4 linked regions of the Homo sapiens genome follow. The protein of the gene in region 3 interacts with the protein of the main gene of each other region in a biochemical or structural test. Each region holds a gene or a part of one and is shown on either strand. Other genes may lie near its edges.

Region 1 (3,247 bases), on a different chromosome or scaffold from region 3:
CGCCGCACCCGCCAGGTCACCAGATACCGCAATGGAGACGCCTATACCACCACCCAGGTGAGGAGCTGGTGGGGAGTGCAGGACATTCAACATGGGAGGTGGCACTTACGTGCTGCCTCACTCCCTCCCCACCTCCCTGGGGGGAAGGTGGGAGGAGCAAAAGGCAGCAGTGAGCTCCCATGAGCATTGCAACAGCAGGGCAATAGCAACAACCATAATCATAACAGCAAAAACCGACCAGGAGCCAGGCTCTGCTCTAAGTATTTTACACACATCAAATCATTTATTTAACCCTCATAACAACCCTATGATGTAGGCAGGTATTCCCATTTTGCAGATGAGGAAACTGAGGCCTGGAGAGTTTAAGTAATGTGTCTAAGGTCAAATAGGCAGTATGTGGTGGAGATGAGACTTGAACTCAATCAATCTGGCTCCAGGATCTCTATACTGTTTAGTGCTTAATGGATCTACTTAGTGATTAATGGCAGAGTGTGGTGGCTCAGGCCTGTAACCTCAGCACTTTGGTGAGGCAGAAGGATCTCTTGAGCCAGGAGTTTGAGACCAGCCCACCCGGCAGCAACATAGTAAGACCCCATCTCTATAAATAATAAAAAGAAGTAGCTGGTGTGGTGGTATGCACCTGTAGTCCCGGCTACTCAGGAAACTGAGGTGGGAGAATCGCTTGAGCCTGGGCAGTTGAGGCTGTAGTGAGCTGTGATTGCCACAGTGCAAGACCCCATCTCAAAAAAAAAAATAAAAATAAAAATAGTGCTTAATGGCTGGAGATGGCTTCACATGCCCAGTATCATAGCATGCTCTTACCTGTTCAGTGAGGTGACTGCTACTGAGTTCTTTCACAGGTATGGACACCTAAACTCAGTGACTTGTCCAAAGTCTGCTGCTCTTAAGTGGTAGTGCTAGGCTCAATCCCAGCTTCCTGGATGTCAAGTTCAAGGGTCTAAGAGGAGGTGGGCGTAGGAAGTCTCACTGAGGGTGGGCAGGTCAATCAGCACTTTGTGGACTCGCCAGGATGAGACATATTGGGGTCCTGGAGGAGACGTTCCCAGATGCAGGCCATCTGTCTCAGTATAAGGATCAATAGACAGAAGCCTGGGGCGGGTGAGAAGCAGGAAGGAGGCTGATGATAGCTACAGCGTGAACAGGCAGACTAGAGATAGAGGGGTTCTTTAGGGAGTGCTTCTGGGGAACCCATTGGGAAACACAATTGTAAAAGGGAAGAAAGAAGAAGAGGAGGCTGTTTGTGGTGATGTGGGGGCACTTTGGAAAACAGAGGCAGTGGCAAATGGATCAGGCAGGCCAGAGGGGCAGTTCATGGCCAGGGCCTGACCCCTAGAGGAAGCAGGGCTTAGTTAAAATTTAAATGCGCGGCCGGGGGCGGTGGCTCATGCCTGTAGTCCCAGCACTTTGGGAGGCCGAGGCGGGTGGATCACGAGGTCAAGAGATCGAGACCATTCTGGCCAACATAGTGAAACCCCGTCTCTACTAAAAACACAAAAAATTAGCCTGGCGTGGTAGTGGGCGCCTGTAGTCCCAGCTACTCGGGAGGCTGAGGCGGGAGCATGGCATGAACCCGGGAGGCGGAGCTTGCAGTGAGCCGAGATGGCGCCACTGCACTCCAGCCTGGGCGACAGAGCCAGACTCCATCTCAAAAAAAAAAAAAAAAAAAGAAAAAGAAAAAGAAAAAAAATTTAAATGCGCACAGGTAGGGCTGGTTCTAGTCCGGTCATCACGTCTGATTACACAGAGGGCGTCAGTTGCCCTGTAAGTCAGACGGAAAGATCCTAACCAGCTCCAGCCGGCACCTAAACCAAGACAGACTTAGGGTCCGACCAGGCAACCAGAGCACAGATGGGGCGGGAAAGGGTGAGTGGGCAGAAGCGGGCACCAATGACGGGCTCCCCGCGACCCCGCCGCCTGCCCCCCGCGCCGCAGGTCTACCACGAACGCGTCAACACGCACGTGGCGGAGGCTGAGTTCGACTACGCGCGCTGCGGCGTTCGCGACGTGTCCAAGACGCTGGTGGGGCTGGAGGGCGCGCCGGCCACGCGGCTGCGCTTCACCAAGTGCTTCAGTTTCGCCAGCGTGGAGGCCGAGAACGCGTACCTGTGCCAGCGCGCGCGCTTCTTCGCAGAGAACGAGGGCCTAGACGACTACATGGAGGCACGCGAGGGCATGCACCTCAAGAACGTGGACTTCCGTGAGTTCATGGTGGCCTTCCCGGACCCGGCCCGGCCGCCCTGGTACGCCTGCTCGTCGGCCTTCTGGGCCGCGGCGCTGCTCACGCTGTCGTGGCCGCTGCGAGTGCTGGCCGAGTACCGCACGGCCTACGCGCACTACCACGTGGAGAAGCTATTTGGCCTGGAGGGCCCGGGCTCGGCCAGCAGCGCAGGCGGTGGCCTCAGCCCCAGCGATGAGCTGCTGCCCCCGCTCACCCACCGCCTGCCGCGGGTCAACACAGTAGACAGCACGGAGCTCGAGTGGCACATCCGCTCCAACCAGCAGCTGGTGCCCAGCTACTCTGAGGCGGTGCTCATGGACCTGGCGGGGCTCGGGACGCGCTGCGGCGGGGCAGGCGGCGGCTACGCGCCCTCGTGCCGCTACGGTGGGGTAGGCGGCCCGGGCGCGGCGGGCGTGGCTCCCTACCGGCGCAGCTGCGAGCACTGCCAGCGCGCCGTCAGCAGCTCGTCTATCTTCTCGCGCAGCGCCCTAAGCATCTGCGCCAGCCCGCGGGCCGGCCCGGGGCCCGGTGGGGGCGCGGGCTGCGGGGGCAGCCGCTTCTCGCTGGGCCGTCTCTACGGCTCCCGGCGCAGCTGCCTGTGGCGCAGCCGCAGCGGGAGCGTCAACGAGGCCAGCTGCCCCACGGAGCAGACGCGGCTGTCCAGCCAGGCCAGCATGGGGGACGACGAGGACGACGACGAGGAGGAGGCCGGGCCGCCGCCGCCCTACCACGACGCCCTCTACTTTCCGGTCCTCATCGTCCACCGGCAGGAGGGGTGTCTGGGCCACAGCCACCGGCCGCTGCACCGCCACGGCTCCTGCGTAGAGACCTCACTGTGACCTCCGGCCCCGGAGTGGCCCGCGCCGTCCTCCCGCCTGCCCCTCGCCGGACTGTGCTCCCTCTGCGACGCAGGGCGAGTCACCACGGTGACTGAGGCCGCGCGGGGGGCAGGGAAAGGGAGGTGAGGGCCGCAAGACAGGCCCGGATGGGGCCGAGACCCCCGCTGTC
Region 2 (3,500 bases), on a different chromosome or scaffold from region 3:
GAAACTTATGGTCACGTGTAATGCGAAAGGGAAGCAGGTGTGTCTTCACATGGCCAGAGCAGGAGGAAGAGGGTGGTGATACATACTCACTATCAGGAGAACAGCAAGGGGGAAATCTGCCACCGTGATTCAGTCATCTCCCATCAGGCCCCTCTCTTAACATTTGGAATTATAATTTAACATGAGGTTTGGACAGGGACGCAAATCCAAACCATATCATACAGTCATTAACTTTATCTAGTATCAATGTAGAGAATTATTTAAACTCCAGAAATTCCTAGTAGATATATTTTACAGCAGTAAAATGGTGAATGTTTACCAGAGAATTTTAATTTCTATAAATCATTGGTTTAAACTGTTTCACCACTCAGATGTAATTTTCTCCAAAGGACCATATATTTTGTAATATTTTGATATCATGTTCATTTAATTTACTTTGTCAGTATTTTCAGTGTTTTTATGGATCCTTATTCATTCAAATATTCATCAGAAACTGTTCAAAATTATTGTTTCATAATTATATAGCTAAATGATATAAATCGCTATCACAATTTTGATCCTAAAAGTAATGAAGTATGAATTGATACTTAAATGCTTCTGCCTGGTGTTCAATGTATATTTTAGGATCAGTCTGTAGATAAAACTAAAACCTTCACAAGCTGAAAGTGTGTGCCAGGTATAACCACTGATTACCTTCCCTTATGGTCTTAGTAAGACTGAAATAAGTTGAGATGAATTTATTGATTTATGAGATTTGTGTATGTCCCAGTTGTATTTATTATAGTGTAATTGCTATTTAATATATGTCCAGGTTTTAAATGTGAAATTTTATTAGCAAAAGTTCATTTCAGTTTTATCATATTTCAAATTTTTCTTAGATATTTTATTTTTCTATGTAGTGTAACATAAAACATTTTTGTTTCTATTCCATTGCCCATTTTGTTTTGAATAGGATTATTATGTGGTGATTTTGTGTCCTACTGAAATGGATGTACAGGTTCGAAGGGTACTGCAGATTCCAATGTGGTCCCAACGAGTTATCTACCTTCAAGGTTCAGCCCTTAAAGATCAAGACCTATTGAGAGCAAAGTAGGTATCCCTGCCTTTCATCTTGCAGCTTACAGTTTTGAGTGACTTAATATTTTCTCTTTCCTCCAAATTTTAGCAATTTTCAGTGTTGCAAGATGTGTTAAAGTATGTTTGAGTATAGACTCTTGCCTTAGTCCCTCTGCTGGCCAAACTAAAAGGTCAAAAATATATCATAAAATCAGTGTGTTTACTCCTCTTTTTCAGCCTCATCTCAAGGCAAAACTGTTCAGAAGACTGTGACCACACAGCACAATGAAAAAAGTGGCCCAGAATAATTATCTTAAGCTGTCAGAGATTCACTGAGGTATCCAGACTCACTGTTAGAGTAGTCTCCAAATCCCCGAATACTGTTTTTATCCCACATATAAAAATTGTGGGCTAAATATGGTGTGACATACCAGTGCAGTGTGAGTTAGGGTTTACATTTTAAAGAGCTTGCACTATGTATTGGACACATAGCACTTGTGTTGCCTGGGGTCAGAGAAAAAATGGTTGCCATGGACTAGAGGAATCAGAAAGGTGACAGGACTTACTTAGCTACCCTCAGCTACCCTCTTCTTTTTGTGCATGTACCAGGCAATTTGTCTTAAAGGTGACATAGTCTTAAACATTTGTCACAAGTTACCAAGTTGTATCATATGAGTAGAGTGAGAGTATTATTGAGCATAGCGTGGACACCACAGAAACAGAGTTTCTGCAAAACAGTCTCCTTAGTTTCAGATGCCAGAAGGTATCTTCAACAAAAGTGGTTTTGCTCAATATTTTCTGCTGTTTTTAAAGTTTTAAACATATCTTCATGTTTACCCTTGAGTTGTCCTGCATACTCTTCTAGATTTAAAAGTCTCCCACTGAATTGAATAGCATAAGTGCTTTATACTTTTTTTTTTCTTTCCTGGATAACCTGAGTGTGCATGAGCGGGTGTGTATTTGTGCCTGTCTTCACTGTGTGTGCAAGTGTGTGTGTATGTGTGTGTGTGTGTCTGTCTAGTGGGTGTTGGAAAAGAACAGAAGAAAAGTCAACTGTTTTGTGGAACAGACTTCTGGACTCCTTTGTGCTGCATAATCCTTCAAATGATGACTAGATACCTAGTCAGGAACTCTGATGTTACCTTTGATTTATATATAATAAAGTCGATTTAATGGAGTTTTTTTTCAATGATTCAACTTCTGAAAAAAAAACAGCACGAGAAACTAGCAGGATATAATGAGTGTTATCTAATTGGAAAATTACATTTCTTTGTGAGTATTTTCATCTTTTTGGTGGATTAAATACTTTATATTTGTGGTCATTGTACATGTGACAGTTCTTTAAGTCATCAGATTTTCCCAGCACCTCAGGTAAACCCTGGCTTTAGGTGTTTACTGTTTGCTATCTATACTCATTATTTGGGTGTGCTAGAGAAATAGATGCTTAGATACTACTGTAATCTAGATCATTGTATTCATTGGTGTAGATAATCAATATTCTTAATTTATTGTATGATAGTTAAGTTCTTCACACAATAAACATGAATAACATTCATATTATGTTCAATATGAATTTGTGTAATACATGGAGGCTTCTTTCCATCTAACAAATTTATCTGAGTTATTGGTATTAGCTATTAGTATCTAAGCTATATACTATTTAGGATTAATGTAACTAATTTATTACCAATAGTCTTAAAATGATGTCTTGGTAAAAGCGACCATATTTACAAGAAGAATTCCTCCATGTGATAAAAGAAAAGGGAAGGGAATGAAGGAGAGAGAGAGGTAGCTATCTGGTCATACTCTAAAAGCTATTTAAAAAAACAAGTTAGAGTGACGCAGTATCCATTTTTATGTTCATTTCCAATCTTAGCTTCCTATAAAATATTTGGGATTTAATATAAACTAATACATTTTTCAGTGCAATTCCTCATGCATAGAGCATGGAGTAGGATTCTCCAAACAAGTTTCATAGGTTAGTTACATGAGTTTTGAATTGTTTAGTTGAAAATGGTGTTTAAAGAAAGTTATCCAACACTCATATTATCTTAATAACCATGGTGCAACATTTTCCCAGAACTGTTTGGTTTGGTCTTATTTCAAGGACTTTTATATTTCCTCCCCATAGAAACCATTTTTTTTTTTGGAAAATATTTACTTTATCACAGAGAACCACAGAGATAAATGATTCCTCATTTTGAAAATAAACATTCTTGTGCTCTTAGAACATCATGTATCAAACACTAAAATATACTGTGTCTTTATCACTAAACTTAAGAAATATTGAACCCTAGTATGAGGGGAAGGGGCTTGGAAAAAGATGATGAATGATCTCCAGGAAGTATAAATACAAACTAGAGTTTTACTTATGAATACAGAGGAGCTGTATTCCACCCCTCTTAGTTTGATTCAGACATTACAGTTAAAATACTATTAATCAT
Region 3 (3,500 bases):
TCCCCATTATTGACAGCTTTCTCCTCGTATTGAAAGCTGCAAAGAGAAACTTTCTTATTTGACATGATGGTGTATAATAAAAGGGAAGAGGACTGAAACGATGAGAAGGACCAGTGGCCTGGTGGAGGGGAGCCATCCAGAGGGTCAGAGGCATGGGGTCCTGCCCCACTGATCTCCTAAGTTGGGGCAATGCTCTTGAGACCTGGCCGATCGCAGATCCACGGGAAGCTACAGGGTAGTGCCACAAGGTCCCAGGAGACTTTCCGCCAGCTTCCCTCAACGGTGACATCTTAGGTAATGGGTGCAAAACCAGAACCAGGAAGTTGATGTGGGTACGAGCACAGAACCGCCTTCCCCAATTTATCGTGTGTGTGTGTGCGCTTCGGCACCTTCTAACAAGCACCCGGGATTACCTTCTCAGAGTGTGCACCACGCAGCTTCTGGAACACAGAGCTTGGCTGTTCTCCTTGCTGCCAGGCTAGTTGCAGAGTCAGATAATCAGACAGACAGGCTCCGCTGGGCCCGCGCAAAAGCAGAAGAGGGGTGTGCAGGTGTCTCAGTGTGCGCGGCGTGGGGTGGAGCTCGGCTAGTGGCTTCACTTCTCCAGGCCTGAGTTCCCCCGTGTGTCTCTACTGGGAGATGAGATGGAACTGGATCAAGGATGTCAGAGTCCTTAGCTGGGCTCCAGTTGTCTGCAGATCTCTCTCCATCAAATGCATCAGTTTGTGTGTGGTGCATATGGTGTAGTAGTTTTTACCAGGTGTCTGCAGCTTTTACCAGATTTTTAGAGGCCATGTGACCATCAGATCATTGGGCTCAACGACCTTGGAGGCTGTGCTCAGCTGCACATGATGAGCACCCATGCCTGCCCTGGGGGAACCTCTGGTCCCTGGCACAGCTGAGCCTCTGTTCCGTGTACTCCAGCCCTGGGTCTCAGCACAGGACTGCCCTGGTCTTGGTCTGCACTGGTGACCTGCCTGAGCCTTCACAGTCCTGGTGGCTTTGCACAGATGTGCATGCCTTCCCTGGGACCCCCCTGCCAGGATCTGACTCCGGTCCCCGCTGAAGGTAGACGGCTAAGCCTCCCTCTCTGTGTCTTCTCCTTCTCTCTCCTAGAAAAAGCTCCCTGTGTTGTTGCTGGGTCACTCGGCCGACCTGCGGCCTGGGGAGTTTGTGGTGGCCATCGGCAGTCCCTTCGCCCTACAGAACACAGTGACAACGGGCATCGTCAGCACTGCCCAGCGGGAGGGCAGGGAGCTGGGCCTCCGGGACTCCGACATGGACTACATCCAGACGGATGCCATCATCAACGTGAGTCCCAGGGACAGGAGGCCGGGGCACCTGCCATCTGTGCCCAAGACCTCAACCTCGAGGTGGTCTCTGACTCGGCTTGCCCCCCTCCCCAGAGCCATTCTGGCACTCGACACATCCACTTGCTAGAAAGTTCTCTCTTTACATTCGGTGGAGCTCTAACCCTGTGACTTCCACCCCAGGGTGCCAGGCACGCTGGGAGTCAGAGGCTGCTGTCCTCGCTCGGGCAGCCTTTCAGAGAAACAGAGGCATGGCCACAGCCCGCAAACACCTTTGCCCAGCTTACACACCCTGGCCAACATTGCTTTTCATTATTATTGTGATTATGTTGGTGGCACGTTTAGCATTCACAAAGCACTTCACCCAGATGCCCCAGATCACGTCCATCCAGCTTTGCCGCAGCTCAGGCACTTGGCTGGAATCCGAGTCTTTGTAGAGGGCCCCCCCAGGCCAGCAGGATGGGAAGTAATACCCCCATTCTCCATGCACCAGGCGGTGCTGCCTGGCCTCCGGGGTGTAGATGCCGAAGCGTATGGTTTGTGCAGAGAACAGTGACAGTCAGACCTCGGTCATCAGGCAGCCATCCACATGGCCTTCTTATCTGTGAAATGGGGGCAGCACTGAGGCCTTTCGATGCTGCTGAGGATGAGACCTGCTTATGTGTCTCTGCACTGGTTAGAGGCAGATCTGGAGAAGGGGCTCCAGGAAGCCTCAGGCGGGGTCAGGCACAGCTAATGCTGTTTCCTCCCCTTGCAGTACGGGAACTCCGGGGGACCACTGGTGAACCTGGTAAGTGTCCCCTAGAGCCAAAATCTCTCAGGTTTCTGGGGTTCTTCTCACATGGGGGTGCTCAGCCTTGAGGTGGGACAGGGCCCACAATATGGTCCTAGAACATTTACACCAACAGTCGGGAGTGCAGCTGGGCCGGAGGCCTGGAAGGAGGAAAGACCAAGGCTGCCCCAAGCGCCTCGGGGATGCTAGTGGCCACCAGGAATGAGGACTCACCCATGAGCAGCAGCTCAGTCCAGGGCCATGTGCCTGTCAGGGGAGCTGGGGCAAGGGAGACGCAGGTGTGGGGCTGCTCACCTCAGCCCTCCCTGCCCTGGATGTACACACAGGATGACAGGGGCACCCTCATTCTCCCCTTCCCAGTTGTGTCTTGAGCCTCAAAGTCAAGCTCAGCCTCATCCCAGGTGAGATTTTTCCAGAATAAACCAGGAAGCTCAGTTCAGAGCTCCTAGGCCCTGAAGGATCGGACGGTCCCACCCCTGAAGCTCCTATCCATGGCTGGGGAGGTGTCCAGATGTGAACAAGCCCAAGCACCATGTGAGCCACATGAGATAGCTCTGGAGGGACGCTGGGCAGGAAGACCTGGCAGCTGATGTGAGATCAGGGAGGGCTTCCTGGAGGTGAGAGCATTATACAACAGCCATCGAGATTGAGGAGGACTGGGTACAGGAAGAAGAAATCCCAGGGAGAAGGCACAACATGAGCATTGCAGGAGGCTCTCAGAGGCTTAGGGAGGGGGAGGTCAGACAAGGGGACAATGAAAGGGGCTGGTGGCCCATGTCCTGCTGCCTCAGGCCTCGTGTGCAGATGGGGCTTCACCCTATGTGCCCAAGATGTCTCCCAGGCTTTTGGCAGGGCTGAGGCCGTGCCCTGGTTTCAAGGAAGCTCGTGTGTGTGGTTTAGGCTGGAGGCCAGAAAGCCAGGCCCAGGAGGCTGCTCCGCATGGTCCAGGCAGTAGAGATGGGCACAGAGGGCCGAGGGTGGACACAGAACTCAATCTACTGGATCTCACACTCGGATGCTCTTCCTGCCTCCTGAGCTTCCAGGGACCAGGAGGACAAAGGGTGCCTTGACCCAAAGCTCTGCCCCAGGCCCCAGAGGGATCCCTGGTGAGCTGGCCAGGCCCTGACAGGGAGGGCAGGGCTAGGGGTATAAGCCAGGCTGTGGGGTGGGGCTCCTTTCCAGGAGTGTGCCTGAGTGTGAGGTCCCCAGGGGCCAGGTCAGATCCTGCCCAAGTGGTACCAGCCTCATGGGGGGCAGGGCAGGTTTGGAGGGTCTCCAAAGAGAGGGATGGGGGGGTCAAGGAGCTCCCCTGGTCCCACCTGCCAGCCCCCCACTTCTGGAAGGTAGGGATAGACAGGGTCTCTGTCCCCGACAGGCCTTACCATGTTCCTCCCTCT
Region 4 (3,500 bases), on a different chromosome or scaffold from region 3:
AGATATTAATGCAGGCTTAAGAGATGAAACAGAAATACCTGAACAATTAGTAAGTACATTGACTTAATATTTAATTTTAAAAGATATTTATAAGCTCTCTTCATGATGTGAATAAGGCATGTTCTAATTTTTGTCTCAAGTCTGTTTTTAATTTAGAATGCATTTTCCTGTAGACTTAATATTGTTAGTGATGGTTAGTTCCTAGACCCAGACCAGCTCATGCCCCATAACAAAAGAAGCTACAATATGGCCCTGAATCCCCTTTGATTCTTGAACCCTTCTGAGCCTAGACTTGTTCTTGACCTTGAGGAAGTTAGGAAAATTAAAGTAGCACAGCAAAGACGGAGTAGAAATTTAGCAGTTGGACAATTCTGATGGCAGCTTAGGGAAAAGGCTTGATAGAGAGAAGAGCCTAAGCTGTCATGGGATTTGCCCAGTTGGTAAACCTCTACTCAGTCTCTGTTATGCTACTTTAAAGCAATTTTTGGCTACATTATTTAGTTTTATTTTTGTATATAGGTTCCAATTTCTTCTCTATCTGAAGAGCAGTTGGAAAAGTTAATTAAGAAATTGAGAAAAGCAAGTGAAGGTAAGACTGCCTAAAGTTGCAAGTTCAATTATTTTAGAGTAATTAGGTGGTATATGAGTTGATACCATTCTGGTTTAAAATATGTTACTACTATTGTTCAGAATCCTACAATTACATGTTTGGCTGCTTAAGCTGTTGTGCTTATATTTGGCACAGGCTTGAATTCTACACTTAAAGATCATATTATGTCCCATCCAGCATTACACGATGCACTTAATGACCCTAAAAATGGCGATTCTGCAACCAAGCACCTGAAACAGCAGGTATGTTTAGGCTATAGTAACTACTAAACATGGCCTTTGTTCATTTGTTAAAACTGTTTTAAATGTAATTATTAATAAGATTTTATTTTGTTTACCTTTGAGGGTACCAAATATTTCCATTTCAAAAATATATAGAAACATATACAAAAAATTGAGGGCATGGATGTGATTCTGAGTACCGTATATTAAATATTTAAAGGCAAGAGAGAAAAATTTTAAGTCAAATACAAATTATCAATGTAAGCATACTGCCTTATGCAGAAATTACCTTGCTGTTTTCCCATTTGAACCAAATGTGTTTACTCTAGTTTATAAAATAATCTTGTGAAGTTTGCAGGCTTCTATTTTAGGTAACATTGAAAATTTAAAGTTACTTGGTCCAAGAAGATGCTTTGTTGAGTTTGGAGCGGGAAAGGGAAAATTATCTCATTGGGTTGATATTGCCTTAAAAGATGCTGAAAAAGTTCACTTCATCCTAGTGGAAAAGGTGACCACAAGATTCAAGGTAAGTGAAACCATTGCTCTGTGTTAGTAACCAAACTTGTTTTCATTTTTTGTATTCAGGAAAAAAGTGATAGAAACATTTCTTAAAAGAAAGGAAAGGAATTTTCTTTATCTGTTTGTTGTAGCTTTTTATTAGTTCTAATTGTATTGATAACTCAAACTGAAGGTGAATTTTTTAATCTAAGTTTTGATAGTCCATTGATCTGAATTCTTAAAATTATTTGCAGAGACAGGAAAATATATAGAAAGAGCCAAGCTCAAGCTAGGAGTTAAAAGTCTTGGGCTCTACTCCTATCTTTGCCACTTGCCCTTCATTCATTAAACAATTTTTGAGCATACTGCCAGGCCCCACCCAGGCTGAAGTACAGTGGCAGGATCGTGGCTCACTGCAGCCTTGACCTCCTGGGCTCATATAATCCTCCCATTTCAGCCTCATGAGTAGCTGGGACTATAGTCCCACGCCACCATGCCCAGGTAATTTTTTAAAATTTTTTGTGGAGACAGGGTCTCACTTTGTCGCCCAGGCTGGTGTCGAACTCCTGAGCTTAAGCCATCCTCCCACCTTACCCTTCCAAAGTGCTGGAATTACAAGTGTGAGCCACTGTGCCCAGCCACTTTATTACTTATATTTAGAAAAGAGACCCAGGCAAATACATAAATGATTGTAGTGAAGTGTTAAAATACGAGAAAGGTCTGCACAGAGTACAGCATGGTTTCAAAGAAGGGAGTGACAAGTTCTATTGCAGGGAAGAGATGGAGAATGACTATGTAGAAAAGGTGATGCTTGAACTAAATCTTGAAAGGTGAATTGGTGTTTGTTAGAGAGTTTGAGAAGCATTCTAGGAAGCAAGAACAGTGTAACCAAATACCTGAAATAACAGGAAAATATGGAAACATTCCTGTATAATGGGAGTACATGGTGCAAAGTAGAGTTCAGCAATGATGGGACTGGAGAGGATGGCTAGCCTATAGAAGGTCTCATATTTTATGCTAAGGAAGGAGTTTGACTATGCTGCTGTCTGGTGGGGATACAATAGAAAAAAGATTTAGTTCTTGGCTTTGAGGAAGCTTACGTCTAGTGGAGTAGACATATAAATATTTGTGTTCAGTATGCTAAGTGTGTTTTGATAGTGGTAAGTACCCAATCCTATGGGAGCATGAAGATAGAGCACCAACCTCAGTCTAGTGTGGGTCATAGAAGTTTTTGCAGAAGTGACAGTTGAGATGAGATTGAAATAATATGTAAGAGTTGGTAAAGTAGAAGGAAATTTTTCAAAGTTTATCCTAGCAGCACCATTAAAACTATATTAGAAGAGTCTGATACTTAGAGAGATTAATAATAAAGATAATTTTTGTCCAACAATCCAAGTAAGAAAGAGGCCAGAGCTAAAGCTATTGCATTGGGATGGAGAGGAGGGCAAGAGTATGAGAAATATTAAGATGTTGGAAGCCACAAGAGTTGGTGATTTGTTAGTAATTGAATATGAGAGATAAGGAGTAATTCTCGGTAGGATTTTTATGGCTTAGGTGACTAAGTGGTGTTCTTTCCTGAGATAAGGAATGAAGGAGGCACAAGAGGAAGGATGGTTTTGGAGACAGAAATAATGAGTTCAGTTCTGAATGTGTCCAGTTTGCTGGTGAAGTAGAGCTTTCTAGTTCACAATTGAGTATGTGTCTGATGCCCATTGGAGAGGCCTGAGCCACAAATGTAGATCAGCCGGTCGTGGGCACATAGGTATAGATTAGAATGGTTGTGATCTTTCAGGAGAGCAAGAAGAGGAGCGAACCAAAAATAGTACACCAGGAGTGACAAAGATAAAGGAGCTAGTAGACAATCTTAGATAAATCACTTAAGATCTGTGAACTTCAGTTCCTTTGTCAGTGAATTGGGAATTTTTAGGGTTAAAGGAAATAATGTCTATGTAATAATTGATAAACATTTTCAAATCTTTTTTAAAAAGTGTGATATTTTGAAGTTCTCATCAAAGAATGTACAATCTTAATTTTTAAATATGTTCTGTTGCTCTGAATTTTGAAAACCAATAAAAATCTTTTTATTTTCATAAAGCTTTTTTAAATGTAAGAAGTGATTATTACAATAATGTTCTGTTTGTGCAGGTGGATGGAAAACACAGAAAGAAAAA

The links. The genes of interacting proteins can lie anywhere in the genome.
Region 1: the proteins of HTRA3 (region 3) and TMEM151B interact in a test that uses a peptide from one of them, tested with the Homo sapiens proteins (one large-scale study listed by IntAct).
Region 2: the proteins of HTRA3 (region 3) and KCNT2 interact in a test that uses a peptide from one of them, tested with the Homo sapiens proteins (one large-scale study listed by IntAct).
Region 4: the proteins of HTRA3 (region 3) and TRMT13 interact in a test that uses a peptide from one of them, tested with the Homo sapiens proteins (one large-scale study listed by IntAct).

Annotation. Positions count from the first base shown.
Region 1 is NC_000006.12:44,273,450-44,276,696, forward strand, and holds part of TMEM151B (transmembrane protein 151B), read left to right. Parts: coding exon 1-57; intron 58-1,953; coding exon 1,954-3,078; 3' UTR 3,079-3,247.
Region 2 is NC_000001.11:196,423,441-196,426,940, reverse strand, and holds part of KCNT2 (potassium channel subfamily T member 2), read left to right. Parts: intron 1-952; coding exon 953-1,089; intron 1,090-3,500. UniProt on the Homo sapiens protein: Sodium-activated and chloride-activated potassium channel. Produces rapidly activating outward rectifier K(+) currents. Contributes to regulate neuronal excitability.
Region 3 is NC_000004.12:8,290,254-8,293,753, forward strand, and holds part of HTRA3 (serine protease HTRA3 isoform 1 precursor), read left to right. Parts: intron 1-1,116; coding exon 1,117-1,311; intron 1,312-2,067; coding exon 2,068-2,100; intron 2,101-3,500. UniProt on the Homo sapiens protein: Serine protease that cleaves beta-casein/CSN2 as well as several extracellular matrix (ECM) proteoglycans such as decorin/DCN, biglycan/BGN and fibronectin/FN1.
Region 4 is NC_000001.11:100,139,663-100,143,162, forward strand, and holds part of TRMT13 (tRNA:m(4)X modification enzyme TRM13 homolog), read left to right. Parts: coding exon 1-49; intron 50-519; coding exon 520-589; intron 590-745; coding exon 746-852; intron 853-1,189; coding exon 1,190-1,357; intron 1,358-3,474; coding exon 3,475-3,500. UniProt on the Homo sapiens protein: tRNA methylase which 2'-O-methylates cytidine(4) in tRNA(Pro) and tRNA(Gly)(GCC), and adenosine(4) in tRNA(His).